Regions from separate parts of the Homo sapiens genome. Here regions 1 and 2 are each reported to be linked to region 3. The links are microRNA targets in miRTarBase. Many come from high-throughput screens and were not tested one by one. Region 3 holds a microRNA gene; each other region holds the end of a gene's coding sequence.
What was found. Region 3 holds the annotated microRNA hsa-miR-5586-3p (CAGAGUGACAAGCUGGUUAAAG, at 1,547-1,568, shown strand). A microRNA usually pairs through its seed, bases 2 to 8, with sites in the 3' UTR of a target mRNA and lowers its output. Matches are read on the target gene's strand: a 7mer-m8 pairs with bases 2 to 8, a 7mer-A1 pairs with bases 2 to 7 and ends in A, and an 8mer does both.

Region 1 (3,000 bases), not on the chromosome of region 3:
AAAATCAGTGGAGTCAGAATAAAGAAGTCAAAGACATATGTAATTTTTCCTACTGTTTCCGGAATAGTCTAAGGGCTGTCTGTGGCCTTTGTCACAAAAGAAAGCTATTCAGTGAGACAGCAGGTGCCCAAGTATTGCTGAGGCTACAGAAGACTTTAGGCTGGAGCTCAGGAGCTGCGTATCTGCATCCACACTGGGGGAAGTTCCAACATGGACACAGGTTCTGAGAGCCTGACTCCTACAAAAGGAGGGGAGAATTTGGATACCCAAAGAAAAACTGGATTTATTAAACCAAAGGGACTCCCTGCCGTCACCAACACTGTTGATGGCCAGGGACCACAGCCTGGCTCTAGTTCTCATTGACTCTTACAAAGCCATTGCCAGGGCAGCAGTGGCTAATCAGATGAGCATTTTGTGGCAGACTAGTCACTTGCAAATGCCATCCCCTTTCTATATCTACCATCTGGTCACCAAATGGTCACTGGAGAAAGGGCACAGGCACAAATCATGGGCAATTGGGGCTTGACCAAGGGAAGGTCACCCTAGCCTGATAGTGATGGAGGCAGAACTGCCAGTAGAAGAAAGAAGAAGGTAATTTAAAGTCTTGCTCTGGTTTTACCCATTCTAGGTACTTAAAAGTTCATTGATAATAGTTTGTGTAAAATTGGGGAAAATGGGCATAGAAGACACCCACTCTACTCACCTTTCAGAAGGGATGTTGCCAGAAATTGGACCAGAAGTCTCTTTAGTTTTTTATCACACAAAGCAATTGAGAATGAAAAAAAGAGAAAGATAGGGGCTTAATAGTGAGAAGTATCCCAGCTTGGTGAACACCTTGTTTATTTTTAAATTTTTTAGAGACAGGGTCTCACTGTGTTGCCCAGGCTGGTCTTGAACTCCTGAGCTCAAGCCACCATTCTGCCTTGGGATTACAGGTGTGAGCCACCATGCTGGGCCCAGTGAAAATCTTGTTAAACTCTCCTAGCCTTCCTTCCTTGAAGACTGGTTTGATTCTGGTGCTGGCGTATGGGCCTGGGATTCAGTTCCTTTTTTGGCCAGCCTAGACGTTTATTCTGTGCCTGAGCAGATGCGTTAAGCTTAGAAGCAGACATCACGGCCACCTCAGGCCCATGCCATTGTGGGCTGTATCCCCTAAAGTGCCCCATTAAAATCTTGGCCTCCTTGTGCTCTTTTCAAATAAGAGACCCCTGTTCCATAATATGGCCCAAACTTCTAGGACGGGGGCACTCAAGGATGGGGAATTTTCCTCACTGACAGGGTTTGCTATGTCTGTGGGTAAACCCAACAGAGGATAAGGCTGGAACATCTGGGTTTGGGGCTTACCTGGTTCTTTTCAGTGTCATAGAGTGATAGTGGAAGGTTTAAAAAAAAGATAGGGAGGATGTATCCACCAGGGCTTTGGGCATTTTCTTGATGAACTTATTCCTTTGGCTTCAGTGAGAATATCTATCATTTACTTAAGAGAAGGCAATGAGCTACGTGGTTTAAAAAACAAATAAAAGGCTGAGTGCAGTGGCTTATGCCTGTAATCCCAGCAGTTTGGGAGGCTGAGGCGGACAGATCACTTGAGCCCAGGAGTTGGAGACCAGCCTGGGCAACATGGTGAAACCCTGTGTCTACAAAAAATATAAAAATTAGTGAGCCTGGTGGTGCACACTTGTAGTCCTAGCTACTTGAGAGGTTGAGATGGGAGGATAGCTTGAGCCCAAGAGCTTGAGGCTGCACTGAACAGTGATTATGCCACTGCACTCCAGCCTAGGTGACAGAGTGAGAGCCTGTCTCAAAAACAAAAACATTCCTTGTTGCCTCTCTTTGTGCTTTTCTTTTTTTTTTTTTTTTTTTTTGAGGCAGAGTCTCACTCTGTCACCCAGGCTGGATGGAGTGCAGTGGCGCGATCTCGGCTCACTGCAAGCTCCGCCTTCCAGGTTCACGCTATTCTCCCGCCTCAGCCTCCCGAGTAGCTGGGACTACAGGCACCCGCCACCACGCCCGGCTAATTTTTTGTATTTTTAGTAGAGACGGGGTTTCACCGTGTTAGCCAGGATGGTCTCAATCTCCCGACCTCATGATCTGCCCGCCTCGGCCTCCCAAAGTGCTGGGATTACAGGCGTGAGCCACCGCGCCCGGCCTCTTTTTATGCTTTTCAAGGCTTTTCTTACCCAGGCCTTGCTCCCCTTGCCCTCAGACTACCATTTTCACTCCCTTTGAGCTGGTTATCCAGGGGAAATGGATCCAGGCTGCTATGAAGATTATCCACCAGGGAACCCCGACACCCTCCTCACCCAGCCTCTCTCCTGAAGAGATCATGAGCTGAGGGCATGCGAGGAAAACTCCCAGCTGTTTCTGCCCTTAAGTTAGAGGACAGAGGAAATAGTTTCTATACTTAAGAAGATAGAAATATTTTCATTCCAAAGCTATAAGAATTATGAGCAGACGAAGCTATGGCTCTGGCGGATGGGCCATTTTGGGAAACAAGATACAAGCAAGGGCATAATTTACAAACAAAGTGTGGGTATATTTGGCAGGTTTGAGGCAAGCAGAAAGGAGGGTTTGGGTACTCTATAAAAAAAGATCTGAAATTCAAACATCTGATAAGGCCACAATGAAGAGATTTCCAGCAGTGGGTGTTGCAGGATGCTGGCACCCAAATCGCCGCAGGCTTGCAAAGGTGCTATGCAAGGTGAGGAGGCAGGTGAGGCAGGCAGTGCCTCTCACAGGTCCATGTCTAGGCCTCCTGAGGATGTCTTCAGCGGCACTGAGTCAAATCCATCAGGAGTCCTCTGAAAGAGAGATGGTGACAGGAGCTGGCTGCTGCACAGGGGCAAGTTTGGGGACAAAGGAGAGAAATGGAAAATAGGTGACAGAAGGAACCCTTATGAAATTCCTGTTTCAGTGGCTTTGTGGAAACACAGAAATGAGATACCCTCTATTCTGCTTGCTCCCTTCAGGGTCAGTTGGAGAACAATAAAAATCTTTTTC
Region 2 (3,000 bases), not on the chromosome of region 3:
GAAGGAGGTAATCTGTCGCTAATGTGTATTTATTCCTTCATGCATGTATGCATTCATACCCTGGGATTTTTTTCTTCCCTTTAGCTGTGTTCCAGATCATCTCCCTGGTAATTTACCCCGTGAAGTACACCCAGACCTTCACCCTTCATGCCAACCCTGCTGTCACTTACATCTATAACTGGGCCTACGGCTTTGGGTGGGCAGCCACGATTATCCTGATTGGCTGTGCCTTCTTCTTCTGCTGCCTCCCCAACTACGAAGATGACCTTCTGGGCAATGCCAAGCCCAGGTACTTCTACACATCTGCCTAACTTGGGAATGAATGTGGGAGAAAATCGCTGCTGCTGAGATGGACTCCAGAAGAAGAAACTGTTTCTCCAGGCGACTTTGAACCCATTTTTTGGCAGTGTTCATATTATTAAACTAGTCAAAAATGCTAAAATAATTTGGGAGAAAATATTTTTTAAGTAGTGTTATAGTTTCATGTTTATCTTTTATTATGTTTTGTGAAGTTGTGTCTTTTCACTAATTACCTATACTATGCCAATATTTCCTTATATCTATCCATAACATTTATACTACATTTGTAAGAGAATATGCACGTGAAACTTAACACTTTATAAGGTAAAAATGAGGTTTCCAAGATTTAATAATCTGATCAAGTTCTTGTTATTTCCAAATAGAATGGACTCGGTCTGTTAAGGGCTAAGGAGAAGAGGAAGATAAGGTTAAAAGTTGTTAATGACCAAACATTCTAAAAGAAATGCAAAAAAAAAGTTTATTTTCAAGCCTTCGAACTATTTAAGGAAAGCAAAATCATTTCCTAAATGCATATCATTTGTGAGAATTTCTCATTAATATCCTGAATCATTCATTTTAGCTAAGGCTTCATGTTGACTCGATATGTCATCTAGGAAAGTACTATTTCATGGTCCAAACCTGTTGCCATAGTTGGTAAGGCTTTCCTTTAAGTGTGAAATATTTAGATGAAATTTTCTCTTTTAAAGTTCTTTATAGGGTTAGGGTGTGGGAAAATGCTATATTAATAAATCTGTAGTGTTTTGTGTTTATATGTTCAGAACCAGAGTAGACTGGATTGAAAGATGGACTGGGTCTAATTTATCATGACTGATAGATCTGGTTAAGTTGTGTAGTAAAGCATTAGGAGGGTCATTCTTGTCACAAAAGTGCCACTAAAACAGCCTCAGGAGAATAAATGACTTGCTTTTCTAAATCTCAGGTTTATCTGGGCTCTATCATATAGACAGGCTTCTGATAGTTTGCAACTGTAAGCAGAAACCTACATATAGTTAAAATCCTGGTCTTTCTTGGTAAACAGATTTTAAATGTCTGATATAAAACATGCCACAGGAGAATTCGGGGATTTGAGTTTCTCTGAATAGCATATATATGATGCATCGGATAGGTCATTATGATTTTTTACCATTTCGACTTACATAATGAAAACCAATTCATTTTAAATATCAGATTATTATTTTGTAAGTTGTGGAAAAAGCTAATTGTAGTTTTCATTATGAAGTTTTCCCAATAAACCAGGTATTCTAAACTTGTTTCCAGTTTGTAGTTTTTCCATTTTTCAAATCTGGGGAAAGGAATTAAAAAAAAAATGGGTAATAAGAACATGGGATATAATGAAAAGTGGTTTTTGTTTGTTTTTTTGTTTGAAGTTTTAAGGGCCTTGCTCATTTTAGGTGTCCAAAACCAATTTTTGAGTGGAGATTAATGAATTCTAATAGTCTATTCCCTGAACTTTTCCTCAATGAACAATACCCTAGACACACATTAAACAATTTCTCTGCAGTGCTATCAACCAGAGGAAAATGGACTAAGAGATTTCTGGCAGGTTCAGACACCCGGGGGACATGTGTGCAGTGTAGCTGAAGCCTCCTCCTTGTGCTGGGGTCCCCTTCCATTCAGGTGGTGGGGTAGCAGTCTCTCTATTTTCCCCTTGCCCTCCTTCCCATTTTATCATTTGTTATTTTTTTTCCCACCATAAGTCATATGTTACTTCCACTATGGTGTATGTCATTGTGAGGATGGGTGCAGAGAGGCTGGGTGGGAGAACGGAAATATATCTCCCTAGGGCTACTGTTGGCCAGCTAGTCCTTGGCAGTGAATTTTTCTATGCTTTTCAAAATGCGAGGTGAATGTTTCTCATAGAGAAATGTAATCTGGGTGATTATACCAAAATTGAAAAGAAAAACCCACACAACTATGCCGTGGCTGGTGGAGAATTTGAAGTGGTCATTAAAAATGTTAAAAATCCCATCTTTTAAAGTGATACCACAGCTCATTCAAGAAGATACTGGATATCTAGAGATTAAGAAACGTGGTCTCCTGTTAAACATGAAAATGACTCCGTTTATAAGCTTCTCTACCACATGCACTTGTCTTTGCATGATTTCCCATCCAGCCTTCTTCCCCTCCTCAATCACACAATACCTTAACGGCGCACATTTAGGAAAAATGCAACCTCCTGGGACCAACGAGCCTGATATAATAGAACCATGTCAACCTAAAGTATTTATGACAAAGATAAACTCTTATTTTGCAGAAATGGTCTGCTTCCTTCAGCCTTGTTCTAGTATAGAGATCTGCCATTCCTTGTTGATCCAGATTCACCAAGACAGATACCTTTATGTCATAACAGAAGGGAAGTTCCAGAGGATTCTGGAGAGTAATGAAGAATTGGGCTGAGAAACCACCTGAAGGCTAACAGTGCATTGCATGAGATTTCCCACAGTAAAGCTGAGGTGCTTTTTGGTTCAGTAATTAAATATTGAGTTCCCACCCTTTAAATAAGCAGTTCTAGGTTCCTAAGCAATTATTTCACTCTGTAAGTAGCCAGACATGCTAAGTGGCACTTACTGCTGATTGTAACAAAGAAGTAATATATCAAGGTCTTTCCATGTTCACACAAGGTAGCTTGTGTGTAATAACTTAGCTTCAAAACCATAGACTGCAGAACTCACAAGTTCA
Region 3 (3,260 bases):
TTTGCCTCAGTGTTCATCAAGGATATGGGGCTGAAGTTTTCTTTGTTGTGTCTCTGCCAGGTTTTGGTTTCAGGATGATGCTGGCCTCACAGAATTAGTTGGGGAGGAGTCCCTTCTCATTTTGTTGGAATAGTTTCAGTAGGAATGGTACCAGCTCTTCTTTCTTTATTTTAATGGCAGAATGCAGCTGTGAATCCATCTGGTCCTGGACTTTTTGGTTGATAGACTATTTATTACTGATTCAATTTCAAAGCTCATTATTGGTCTGGTCAGGGAAGCAATTTCTTCCTGGTTCAGTCTTGAGAAGGTATATGTGTCCAGGAATTTATTTATCTCTTCTAGGTTTTCTAATTTGTGTGCATGTGTGCATAGAGGTGTTCATAATAGTCTGTAATAGTTATTTGTATTTCTGTGGGGTCAATGGTAACATCCCATTTGTCATTTCTGATTGTGTTTATTTGGATCTGTCTTTTCTTCTTTATTAGTCTAGGTAGTGGACTACCTTATTAATGTTTTTCAAAACACCAACTCTTGGATTTGCTTATTTTTTCATGGCTTTTAATGTCTTGATCTCCTTCAATTCAGCCCTGATTTTGGTTATTTCTTGTCTTCTGCTAGCTCTGGAGTTGGTTTGCTCTTGCTTCTCTAGTTCTTTTAGTTGCAGGGTTAGGTTATACATTTGAGATGATTCTAACTTTTGATATTAAGTTGGAATTTAGTGCTATAAATTTCCCTCTTAACACTGCCTTAGCTGTGTCCCAGAGATTCTGGTATGTTGTATCTTTGTTCTCATTAGTTTCAAAGAATTTCTTGATTTCTTCCTTAATTTCATTATTTACCCAAAAGCCATTCAGGAGCAGGTTGTTTAATTTCCATGTAACTGCATGTTTTGAGTTTTTTGTAGTCTTGATTTTCACTGCTATCCAAGAGTGAATTTGGTATGATTTCAGTTCTTTTACATTTGCTGAAAATTGTTATATAACCAACTGTGTGGTTGACTTTACAATATGTGCCATGTGGTGATGAGAAGAATGTATAGTCTGTTGTTTTGGGGTGGAGAGTTCTGTGGAGATCTATCAGATCCATTTGGTCCAGTGTTGAATTTGGGTCTGAAATATCCTTGTTAATTTTCTGCCTTGATCATCTGTCTAGTTCTGTCAGTAAGTGTTGAAGTCTCCCACTATTATTGTGTTGGAGTCTAAGTCTCTTTGCAGGTCTCTTGAGAACTTGCTTTGTGAATCTGGGTGTCCCTGTGTTGGGTGCATACGTATTAGGAGAGTTAGGTTTTCTTGTTGAATTGAACCCTTTACCATTATGTAACGCTCTTGTCTTTTTTGATTTTTGTTTGTTTAAAGTCTGTTTGTCTGAGATTGGGATTGCAACCCCTGCTTTTTTCTGTTTTCCATTTGCTTGGTAGATTTTCCTCCATCCCTTTATTTTGAGCATATGGATGTCACTGCATGTGAGATGGGTCTCTTGAAGACAGCATACCATTGGGCCTTGCTTCTTTATCCAGCTTGTTACTATATGCTTTTTAAATGGGGCACAGAGTGACAAGCTGGTTAAAGAAGCAAGACCCCTTCAAGATTATTATTGATATGTGTGGATTTGATTCTGTCATTGTATTGTTATCTGTTTTTTATGCCAGCTTGTTTGTGTGGTTGCTTTATAGTGTCACTGGCCTCTGTACTTGTGTTTTTTTTTAATTGGCTGGTAATGGTCTTTCCATATTTAGTGCTTCGTTCAAGATCTCTTGTAAAGCAGATCTGGTGGTAATGATCTCCCTCAGCATTTGCTTATCTGAAAAGGATCTTATTTCTTCTTCACTGAGGAAGGTTAGTTTGGCTGGATATGAAATTCTTGGTTGAAGATTTTCTTCATTGAGAATGTTGAATATAGGCCCCCAATCTCTTCAGGCTTGTAGGGTTTCTGCTGAGAGGTCTGCTGCTAGCCTGATGGGGTTCCCTTTCTCTCTAGCTGCTTTTAACATTCCTTCTTTCATTTTGACCCTGGAAAGTCTGATTGTGTATCTTGGTGATGATATTCTTATGGAGAATCTTGCAGAGGTTCTCTGTATTTCCTGAATTTGACTGTTGGCCTCTGTAGTGAGGTTGGGAAAGTTTTCACAGAAGATATCCTGAAATATGTTTTCCAAGTTGTTTGCTTTCCCCCAATCCCTTTCAGGGATGCCAGTGATTTATAGTTTGGGCCTCTTTATATAATCCCATATTTCTCAGAGGTTTTATTTGTTCCTTTTCATTATTTTTTCTTTATCTGTATATGACTGTCGTGTTTAAAAGAGCCAGTCTTCCAAGTTCTGAGATTTCTTCCTCAGTTTGGTCTATTTTGCTGTTAATTCTTGTGACTGCATTGTGAAAATCTTGCAGTTTGTTTTTCAGCTCTATCAGATGAGTTCTTTTATACTGGCTATTTTATCTGTCAGCTTCGGTATCATTTTATTTTGATTGTTAGTTTTCTCGGATTGGATTTTGCCATTCTCTGGAACCTCAATGATCTTTGTTCCTATCAGTATTCTGAATTTTCTTTCTGTTATTCCAGCCAACCCTGGTTAAGAATCCTTGTTGAAGAACTAGTGTAGTCATTTGGAGGATATAAGACACTCTGGTCATCTGACTTGTCAGAGTTCTTGTGTTGGTTCTTTCTCATCTCTGCATTTAGGTGTTCTCTTAACTGCTGGGCTGCCTCTGATTGAAGCGGTCAGGCAGGGGCAGAGTGGTTGCACTGGAGTCCTGGGCCTGGTAACTCTGCCCAGTGAAGAGAAGTGAGGACCAGGACCTGCGTGGAGAACAGTATGGACACTTTTCCATTAGGTGGATGCTCTGTGCTGGGGGTTCAGACCAGTGCCGGGTCCCCATGGACTCTCTAGAGCCTGGAGACAAGAAGGGTGAGGGCTGTGAGACAGCAAAGATGGCAACCCACCCCTCCCACTGGGAGCTCTGTCCCAGAGAGCTGAAGAACTGCTACTGGCTCAATAGCTCCAGTGGGGAAAGGCTGGAGACCCAGGCTGGGAGAACCTGCCCAGTGAGGAGATACGGGAACAGGGACTCATGTAACAAACATATAGAAAACATGTAACATGTAGAAAACATGTAACATATAGAAAACATGTAATATATAGAAAACATGTAACAAACATATATAAAAGTCTGGCCACTTTTCCATTGGGCTGCTGGAATATGCAGGAGGTCTGCTCCAGTTTCTAATCACCTCAGATTTTCCAGCACCTGAAGGTATCAACA

Region 1: miRTarBase lists ELAPOR1 as a target of hsa-miR-5586-3p. Seed matches in the 3' UTR shown: 7mer-m8 at 1,786-1,792 and 8mer at 1,364-1,371.
Region 2: the mRNA of PERP is a reported target of hsa-miR-5586-3p. Seed matches in the 3' UTR shown: 7mer-m8 at 2,851-2,857.

Annotation. Positions count from the first base shown.
Region 1 is chr1:109,202,745-109,205,744 of GRCh38, reverse strand. It overlaps ELAPOR1 (endosome-lysosome associated apoptosis and autophagy regulator 1), which reads right to left. Exons shown (of 22, transcript NM_020775.5): 22 at 1-2,801. The coding sequence ends at 2,733. Among named protein-coding and RNA genes, the nearest start is that of SARS1, 9.7 kb to the left of the region's middle.
Region 2 is chr6:138,089,353-138,092,352 of GRCh38, reverse strand. PERP (p53 apoptosis effector related to PMP22) reads left to right here. Exons shown (of 3, transcript NM_022121.5): 3 at 85-3,000. The coding sequence ends at 311. Among named protein-coding and RNA genes, the nearest start is that of PERP, 17 kb to the left of the region's middle.
Region 3 is chr14:59,645,270-59,648,529 of GRCh38, reverse strand. It overlaps MIR5586 (microRNA 5586), which reads left to right and starts at 1,510; the gene lies at 1,510-1,568. All of the region lies in intron 3 of RTN1 (reticulon 1), which reads left to right.